Linked DNA regions of Homo sapiens: region 1 is linked to region 2. Evidence: fine-mapped expression QTL. A gene starts in region 2. The other region holds a variant in brackets. All regions are shown on one strand. Distances are from middle to middle. Region 1 overlaps SPOPL (speckle type BTB/POZ protein like). Region 2 holds the start of LINC02631 (long intergenic non-protein coding RNA 2631).

Region 1 (5,392 bases), 66 kb after region 2:
ATAGAGCCCCAAACGATATCAAGCAAAAACTAACAGAATTAAAGAGAGAATAGACAATTCTACAATAATAGCTGGAGACAGAAATACCCAACATTCAATGATGCAGAGAACGAGGAAGATCAATAAAGAGATAGAAGACTTGAACAGCAGTATAAAATAACTAGACCTAACAGCCATTTCACTCATCAACAGTGGAACACACATTCTTCTCAAGTGCATATGGAATGTTCTCAAGGACAGACCATATGCTACCGAGGCCACAAAACAAGTCTCGACGAATTTAAAAAAATTTAAATTATACAAAGTATCCTCTCTGATTGCAGTTGAATGAAACTATAAATCAGTAACAGAAGAAAAAATTTTAAAATTCACAAATGTGGAACTACCAAAACTGACTCAAGAGGAAACCGAAAATGTGAACAGACCCCCATAACCAGCAGAGACTGAACCACTAATGAAAAAAACTTTCAGCGTGACAACTTGAGGAGTTCCATGGACATACTCCCCAGAAAATTTGGTGAAAAATATAAAAACACTGCTGGAAGCACAGAACAAATGAAGAAACATTTATTCAAGAAAATTTAGTAGAGACTATGAGAAAAGTGAGAGTCTGTGGTCTTTGAACCAGGAGCTGCTCTGTCCTAACTCAAGGAGTCAGAAACTCCACTCTAGACTGGTGTAGCCATAAGCACTGTGTTCCCTCTTCCAACAGGTCCAGTCAATGTCCTCCTGTGACAGGAAGGATGTCAACATTTCTCATCCTGCCTCTAAGGGAGAAGACCACCCTTCATATTGTCTTGTGCCCAATTTCTGCCTCCAAAGAAAAAAGAAGTAAAAACTAAAAGGCAGAAATGAAATCCACAGGCAGACAGCCCGATGCCACGCCCTGGGCCTGGTAGTTAAAAATCAACCCATGACTGAACTGCTTGTGTTATCTATAGATTCCAGACACTGTATGGAAAAGCATTGTGAAAATCCCCGTACTGTTCTGTTCCGTTCTGATTACCGGTGCATGCAGCCCCCAATCATGTATCCCCTGCTTGCTCAATCGATCATGACCCTCTCACGTGGACACCCTTAAGAGTCATAAGCCCTTAAAAGGGACAGAAATTGCTCACTCAGGGAGCTCGGTTGTTTGAGATGTAAGTCTGCCGATGCTCCCAGCCGAATAAAGTCCTTTCCTTCCTCAACTCGGTGTCTGAGGGGTTTTGTTTGTTTGTTTGGCTCATGCTGCTACACCTCTAGCTACTTAATGCTGATGTTACAGGTGAATGAAACCAAGAGGTAAGGGGCTGGCTCCCTTCTTCAAATCTGTCACTGCCGGAAAGGTGGAGGCTCTACTTTGGGCATGGTGCTGTCAGGGTACCAATCACTGCTGTCTTGGCTTGTAAACTGTGGGTTCCATACAAAGAGCGTGAAGATAAGAAGAACTGAGGCTACTGCCTCCCTCCAGCACAGCTCCTACAGTAGAGATACACTGGGAAAGAAATACCATTGTTCCTTCCTCCTTACTCCAGAGCCTGGGCTTGGAGATGTTTGCCTGTGGAAAGAAGTGGACCATAAAGCAGACTGCTTTTAATCTCTTCCCAGAGAAAAGAAGTTCATTTGCAAGGAAACAGGCAAGCATGATCTGAAAAACAGTAGAGGCTGTGAGAGGCAAATGAGAAGAGACTGGAGGAATCAATGGATACAAAGGCTAAACTACAGGACAGCTGATTTGCCCAAAAAAAAACAGGAAAAGACACAGCTGAGAGGAGCCCACCTGGATTCGGAAGAAATTTCAGGCACTGACTTAGGGAACTATTTCTTCAAAGGAAACCAAAGTTGATGAGTCTGCAGAACAACATAATGCCCCAGGGCATTGTTGAAAACAGTGCAATTAGCACTAGATTAATGGACCTTAACAGATGTGAGTAGTCAGGCAAAAAGAAAGCCCTGCCAAACCACCATCACCCAGGGTAACTGGGAATACCCAAGGCTGCTTCCCCAGAGGTGCAACATCAGAGGCTTAACACTGTGTGCGTGTGTGTGTGTGTGGGGGGGGGGCACTAAATAGACTCCACTAAAACAGTCCATAAACAAAATAAGCAAGAAGCAACAGCATGCACTGGAAGGAAGAAACCAGTTCCAAGAATTTCTCAATTTACTACATAAAATATCCAGCTTTGAATAGAAAATTACGAGGCATGAAAAAACAGAAAGTATGACCCATATGCTGGGGAAAAAAACAGATAACAGAAACTGTGATTAAACTTACATGTTGGATTTAACAGACAAAGCATTCCAAATAGCCATTAATAAGTATGTGTAAAGAACTAAAGGAAATCATAATTAGAGGAAGGT[A/G]TGATGACAATGTCACACAAAAAAAATAAAGAATGTCAACAAAAAGGTAAAGGTTATTTTTTTTAAAAGAACCAAATAAAAATTCTGGAGCTGAACCATATAACTGAAATGAAAATTCACTAGAGGAGGTCAACAGTAGATATGAACAAATAGAAGAATTAGTGAACTTACAGACAAATCAGTAGAGATTATACAATCCAGACAGAAAAATATGAAGAAAAATGAACATCTTCAGAGAACTGTAGGACATTATTTTAAGCACACTGACATGTATATAATGGGAGTATCAGAAGGAGAAGAAAGACAGAAGCAGCAGAAAAAGATAACTAAAAAAAATGGCTGAAAACTTCTCAAATTTATTGAAAAGCAATAATATACACATTTAAGGAGCTCAATCAACTCCAAGTAGGTTAAATGCAAAGAAACCCACAAACACATGGATCACAGTAAAAATGCTGAAAAAGACCAAAAAAAAAAAAAAAAAAGCTACTAGAATGGCTATTAAAAAAAAAAAAAGGAGTGGGGAATCACCTGCATTGACGAGGATGTAGAGAAACTGGAATCCTTGGACATTGCTTGTGGAGATGTATAATGGTTTAACCGCTGTGGAAAACAGTTTAAGGATTCCTCAAAAAATTAAACATAGAATTACCACATGATCCAGCTATTCTACTCCTAGGTATATATCCAAAAGAACTGGAAACAGGTGTTCAAATGACTGAAACATAAATGTTCTTTGCTGCAGTATTCACAATAGCCAAAAGGTTACTAGCTAATAATCCATTCATTGATGGACAATCCAAATGTTCATCAAGCAATAAATGAATTTTTAAAATGTGGTACATGTACACAATGAATTTTCCTTTTTTTAAACAGTGTCTTGCTCTGCCACTCAGGCTGAAATACAGTGATGCAATCACAGCTCACTGCCCACACCTGGGTAATTTTATTTCTTATAGACACAAGATCTCACTGTTGCTCAGTTTGGTCCTGAACTCCTGGGCTCAAGAGATCCTTCCAGCTCAGCCTCCCAAAGTGCTGAGATTACAGGTGTGAGCCATTAAGCCTGGTCACACAATGAAATAATATGTAGTCATAAAAATAAATAAAGTATTGATGCATGTTACAACATGAATGAATCTTGAAAACATTATGCTAAGTGAAAGAAGATAGGCACAAAAGGCCACATTGTATCATTTCACTTGTTTTAAATATTGGGCAGATCCATACATACAAAAAGCAGATTAGTAGTTGCCAGACCTGTGGGGAGGGGGAAATGGTAAGTAATTGGTTATGGAGTTTCCTCTGGGACTGATAAAAGTGTTCTGGAACTAGACAGAGGTGCTAGTTGCACAACACTGTCAATGTACTAAGCCATTACGGAACTGTACTTTTTAAAAAAGTAAAAATGATAGATTTTATGTTATATGAATTTTGCCTCATTTAAAAAAAATACCTGCACATAGAAGTCCATATGCACATATATACACATTTCTTTTGTGATTAAAAAGTAATCAAAGTTGTCCCTTTGTTTCCATGGGAGACTGATTCCAGGACTCCCATGGATACCAAAATTCACAGATGTTCCAGTCCCTTATACAAAATGGTATAATATCTGCATTTGATATACACATATCCTCTGGTATCTTTAGATCATCTCTAGATTACTTAACACCTAATACAATGTAAATGCTATGTAAATAGTTGTTATACTGTGCTGTTTTATTAGATTTTTTAAATTGTTGTATTGTTAATTTTTTTTCCCATATATTTTTGATCCACAGTTGGTTGAATCCTCAGATGCAGAATCGGTGGATACAGAGGGTCAACTCTATAAAACACCTTCTATAACTATTGAGTCTATATTAGCCACTATTAGAGAATAAAGTACTAATCGTTATTTTTAATCACCCAAAGGAAAAACTATTGTTTCTTTAAAAAATGTCTTCAATTTTGCAGTATATCAAGTGTGTTAGCTATCAAGCTTCTAGACCAATAAAATATATAAATTATCCAGCAAAGTAGGGTTAAAAAAAATCATGCTGTCTAAAGAGCATTATCAAAATTTTATCCAGTTATAAAATGAGACTGATGTTTATGAGCTACGTCTTTCATTGTCATCTGCAATCAGCTCATTCATCTTCTAGGAGGTAGCTTAATCAATTGTGGTTTAATTATACATACAGTATTTTTGTTTATTAATTCTACAATTAACAAATGGTAAATTACAATTTTGAAATACTACCATATTTATGCTAAAAGTCCTCTGAACTGCTTCAGGATGTTATAACAAAATACTGCCTGAGGTCAAAACAACTTTATATATATGATGAAAAAGAGTTAATATAATATATAACATATAATGTTCAACAGTTTTGCTAAGACTGTACCAGGGAGAATAATTAAGATTCTAATAAGTGTTTATAAAGGTGATAAAATAGTAATACACATATAAATTTCTTAAATCTATTCAAATTAAGTATACGATGACTTTAGGGAAATACAATGAACATTTATTATATGCTTAGATATATCATGCACTCTAACGAAACCTGGGGTATGAAGATAAATAAAACACATTCCCTACTCTTGGCAAAAACTATAACATAGTAGAGGATACAGACACGGAGATATTTTGAATATGATAATATGAGAGAGTACTGTAACAGTGATAATGAAGCACTTCAGGACACAGAAAATGTCCTGAAGATATTCCCTGAGCTGTATTCTATAGGAAGCAAACAAGATTATAGAAAGACCACAAACAATAGCATAGACTTTAATAACAAGAGCTATATACTGAGACCAATGTGAATCAGTGCTTTGCCATGAATTCTGTGATCTTATAGATACTGGGCCTCTCCTTTGTTTATTAAATTATTATAGCACCTCATTGCCCTATGGTTGCTGAGTGGATAATAGGAAATTTTATACATATACACACCCTTAGCACAAAGTGAGTACTGGAGTAGAAACAGTAAGTAAAACTTTACTGGTGACAGTTGATGGTACAGATGGGCAGGGGAGATAAGCCTGGTAATGATCAAAA
Region 2 (5,392 bases):
TAATCTGCATAAGAAAAATTTTAAATATGATTAAATATTGAAAGCTGTAGCAGTTAGGAATATATTTGGTAGTAGAAACAAACTAATCAACTCACAGTAACTTTAATAGTTGGGGTCATTTTTCTCTTAGAACAAGAACAAAATAAGTGATTACCTGGGTGGGTTCAGTGGATCAACAGCCTTTGTCTTCATCAGGAGAGCAAAAATTGCCCCAGAACATACTCCTAACAGATTTGCACTTGTTTTCATGGCTGGAAGTGAGTCATAGGGCCACACTTAGCTCAAGGGAGACTGGAAAATTGAGGATTTGGGGGCCAGTGGGTGGTAAAAAGAAGGGTGTTGGAAATATTTTTGGGATAATCATTTAGAATTATCTGCCTCAGGAAGTTTTGAATTAAAATCATATTAATTAATGTATCTACAACCTCCCTTTGGAGGGAATGCAGTGCTTCTAGAGGCCTCAAACTTCTGTTTTCTCAGAGAAAGCAGAAACCCAAGAGGAGAGCCAAGTGTCTGCTGTGCCTCTTCCTTGGGGCAACATCTTCCCTAGCTCTAGATTGCTGGTCCAAGGGAATCAGGCCACTCAGTTGGCTTCGTCAATGGAAATTCTCAACACAGAATGCTCCTCTTCCACTGTGAGATGTTTCACCCTGCAAATAAAAGTGCAGAATCTCAAGTCATGGGGCACACGTGGAATTCTGACTCTTCTCTTTTCTAACTCTTGATCTCGGACAAGTTTATGGTTAAAACACTCACATTGCTAATTTGAAAATGGGAATAACAATGTTACTTATCTCTTTTCTATGGCAGTGAGGATTAAATGGAAAGCACTAAATAGAGTGGCTACCATATGTAACTACTCAGTAAATGGTAACTGCTATTATTAACATTAGTAGTTGCTATGGACTGAATCTCTATGGCTCCCCCAAAATTGATGTGTTGAAACCTAATCCCCAATGTGATGGTATTTAGAGGTAGGGCTTTTGGAAGTGATTAGGTCATGAAGGTGAGGCCCTCATAAATGGGATAAGCACAGTTTGTAAAAAGAGACTCTCGAGAGGCCCCTTGCCCTTCAACCCTGTGAGAACACAGTGAGAATATGGCTGTCTGTGAACTGGAAAGCAGGCCCTCACCATACACAGAATCTGCAGGCACCTCAATCTTGGACCTCCCAGCCTCCAGAACCGTGGAAAATAAATGTTTGTTGTTAAAGCAACCCCATCCAGGATATTTTTGTTATAACAGTCCAAACAGACTAACGCAGTAATCATAAACAGTAACACTTTTTAAATGTACAGATTTTCCAACTCTGTCAACTTTACTCCAAAAGGTTAACAACAAAAATTATGTGAATAATGATTTCTTTCTGTTTGCATCTAAAATTAAACCACATGAGCTTATTGGAATTCATCCTAGAATCTCTGTAATTGTTAGTATTTGAATGACAAGCTCTCCCATACATTTACTAAAGTTTGTAAAGAAAGCTATGCCATTCTGGAGTATGATGATCTGTCCCTGTGACGTATCTAGAAAGTTCATTACTTGTCTGTAGTCGTCTCTTGCCAAATTCAATTTGCAAAGACAATAGCTTCATAGCCATTTCTTTTAATCTTGTTTGTAATATTGCTCATTAAATAGAAGATATATTATGCCAGATCTTGTTCATTTCAAAGCAAATTATAGAAGGTGACTAAATTGTGCACCAAGAGAAAGAGTCCAATGTTTTACCAGCAAGGCCACAAAATCGACATCTGCTTTTTGACAAGCTGAGAGATCCAAAAGAATCTTGACGTATCTTAATGCTGTCTGTCATATACCACAATGTTCATCAATTATTTCTTTGTGAAAGAATGACTAATTATTATGCCTACATGGGGTTCATTTGCATATGCAAGCTCAAGTGTTTTATAGAGAAAAGAATGTTGATTTGTGGTGAGGGCAAACTCCTTCCCTCCAAATTAAAATACTTCTTTTTACACACAGTTACATTAGGCTTGCTATTGAAACCCAGGGAGAGAGAAAATATAATTCAGGAACTGAGTCCAAATCTATTTTCCCATTTCCAAGAAAAAGGAAAACAGTATATTTTTCATGTATTTTAGACTAAATTTTTGAAAAATGTGCCATGCAGCTGCCATTGTTCATAAGGGAAAATGATCTGGATACAATTGGCCTAATCAACTCTTAACCTGAGAACATAAGTGGATGATTTCACCTAGTGTTACCCACACAAGCAGCTGCTGACATCAGGGTCCTTATGAAAATGCTGCACCTGAGACTGATGCCAGGTAGATGGCACTGGGGATTTCAGACTCCAGAACTGAAAACAAGCTGAGCATCTGGTGGAGCCATCCGCTGATCCAAAAGGCTGCTCTCTACAGATGAATGGGTGTTAAGACAGCTGTCCTTCCTAGACCATGAGCAGCTGCTGGCCAGGGTTGCTGCCTGCCAAAAGGGTGGAGTTGGGAGAAACCAGGAGTCAACCACAGCTACCACAGTCTAATGAGTTAGTTTGATACCAGGGACATATTAGGAGGACTTGCTGCTGCCACGAGCTTGCACATGACTCTTCTCAACTGCAGAGGAAAACCAGTATGATGCCAGGCTAGAAGCAGCAGCATCACCATCAGCCTGGTCACATTCTACTTATAGCCCACTCCATCTGACAGCATAAAGCTAGACCTGCCCTGGGCTGCTGGTAGCATAAAGCCAGACCTGCCCTGGGCTGCCAAAAAAGTCTTCCTGAAAGCCATGAATGACATGCAAAGGAGAAATATGAAACATCTAAGTGAATATAGAGGAGAGGGCATTTCTGATAGACACTCATGAGTCAGGCCCACAGGCTTAAAACACAGTGATACTTGTACTGGTTTCTTACAGCTGCTGTGACTTAAAACAACAGACATTTTTTCTCTCATGATTCTGGAGGCTGAAAGTCTGAAATCAATGTGTTTTCAGGGCCATGCTCTCTCTGAAGTCTGTAAGGAAGAATCCTCCTTTTCCTCTTCCAGCTTTTGGTGGTTTCTGGCATTCCTTGGTTTGTGGGAACCTAAATTCAGTCTCTGCCTCCATCTTCATTCACATGGCCTCTTCCCTGGGTCTCTGTGTGTTTCTCACAGTCTTCTTATGATGTCACCAATTATTGGATTTTGGACCCACCCCACTCTAGTATGACCTCATCTTAACTTGATTAGATCTGCAAAGTCCGTATCTCCAAATAAGATCACATTTACTGGCACAGGGAGTTAGAATTTTAACATATCTTTTTAGGGAACACAATTCACACCACAACACTGGCACATGAAGAGGGAATAGGAAGTGTCTGGATGAATGTGGGGGAGAGGGTATTTTCCTCCTCTATAGTCACTTAGACAGAAAGAATGTCATGAATCAAGCCCAAGGGCTTGAAATGCTCCAGTGCTTCTGTAGAAAACCAGCAATGCCTCACTCCTCACTCCAGCAGGATGCTTTACTTTCCCTGTGGTAAGACCAGCAACACTTATGATTATTTGCTCCTTGTATGGGTAGAAGGGTCACCTGTGTAAGTATAACACATCAGCCCACCCCTAAAATTTTCAGGGCTCCGGATAAGAACATAAATGGAGACCCAAGAAGCATATGTCCAATTATTTCAAAGTTATATTTCATGCTACAAATTGTTAAGCCAAATATGTTCTGTTCTCCTATTTTGACAAATACACCTTCATTACTACAAAATTTTTATAGGTATTAGAAAGCTGTGGTTTTTATTTAACTGAAAGTTGGCAAAATATCAGATGGTCTGTCTGGGTATTCTGTTGAAAGGCTGATGATGTTAGGATGAGTAATAAAGACATACAAAATTCATAAATTATTATATATTTATTTCACAGAATTTACTGTCTTTCCTTTATTTCAGAAAATGTACTAATTATGTTGTTGTTGCTGGGGGCGATGGCTCACGCCTGTAATCCCAGGACTTTGGGAGGCTGAGGTGGGTGGATCACCTGAGGTCGGGAGTTCGAGACCAGCCTGGCCAACATGGTGAAACCCCATCTCTACTAAAAATACAAAAAATTAGTTTCAGGATTATTTGCACATATTATTTGTTTCTCCTTAGAGTCATTTTTGTTTCCAACTTCAAATTTTCTTATATTTTATTGATATGTCATTTTTATTGGGTAACTCACATGTAGTTTCTATTACTTATAAAAATACATTTCATAATTAAAATACTATGATATGTTATATACATATAATATGTGTGTGTGTTAAATCTTTTAAAAGTAAAAGAAGACTAGATTTGTTTAGGGTTTTGTAAACTTTTTCTAGCATTATTAATAGCACCCATCCATTTATACCAAATAACTGTGCACAAATTATACTAATTATAAAATTTATTCTAATTATAAATTACTTTGATTTTCTGTGATGACTACAATTTTCTTTTTGAGCATCTTTTGCTTAACTCTCTTGGTGCAACTTGTATTTCTTTATGTGTCCAAGAGATGCTGTAAGGTTTAATCAAAACATTTCATATTTTAAAAGAACCAGAAAATATTACATATAATCTATGTACTATTCCCAATAATGTCATGGATAAGGGCACAGTAAAGGCCATGCCTCCTAGTAATAAGCACAAAGGAATTACACAAAAGAGTGCCAAGTACAAAGATAGATTTGGAGCAAACTCTTGGCTTGTGCACCTTTTCCTTTATCAGCCATGTTAGCACCATTTTCGGAGGCTTGTCATTGATTAACTTTTATTTTGAAAGAGAGATCTGTTAAAGAATACAAAATTATAGCCAGATAGGAAAAATAAGTTCTAGTGTTCTATAGTACTGTAGGATGATTATAGCTAAAAATTTATAGTTTCAAATAGCTAGAAGGAAAACATCGAACATTCCCAACATAAAGAAATGATAAATGATTGAGATGATGAATATGCTAATTAATTACCCTGTTCTGATCACTCTGCATTACATGTATTGAAACATCACTACATACCCCAGGAATATGTACAATTATTATTTGTCCATTAAAAACATAAAACATTTAAAAAGCAAAGAAAAGCTGTTTTTAATATTTGTGTTTTATTGATTTTTATTACTTTTCGTATAAAATTAAAACTTGAGAATTCTAGCTTTCAATGTCCTTTTGGTTGCTAATGTAAAGAGGTGATATCAAATTTCTGGCATTATATAGATATATAATATATATTGTGCATATTATTATATATAATGTATATATGTATTATATATTATATATTTATATATGTGTGTATTTATACACTTATTGGATTATTATATATTACAAAATGTTCCTCAGTTACCATGTGTGCTGTAGCACAGTGTTAATTCATGGGTCCTTCCTGAATCACAAATTAGAACACAAAGAGAAATAAGAAAATGGA

What was found.
Region 1: its variant is fine-mapped to the expression of LINC02631 in whole blood (TOPMed, PIP 0.98).

What each region holds. Positions count from the first base shown.
Region 1 is chr2:138,532,992-138,538,383 of GRCh38, reverse strand. The region is part of intron 1 of SPOPL (speckle type BTB/POZ protein like); the gene reads right to left. Among named protein-coding and RNA genes, the nearest start is that of SPOPL, 34 kb to the right of the region's middle. The variant A/G (reference allele first, on the strand shown) is at 2,344.
Region 2 is chr2:138,599,322-138,604,713 of GRCh38, reverse strand. It overlaps LINC02631 (long intergenic non-protein coding RNA 2631), which reads right to left and starts at 3,115. Exons shown (of 3, transcript NR_174959.1): 1 at 2,273-3,115; 2 at 155-650. LOC124905958 (a long non-coding RNA gene) reads left to right here and starts at 3,404. Exons shown (of 3, transcript XR_007088680.1): 1 at 3,404-3,483; 2 at 3,899-3,973.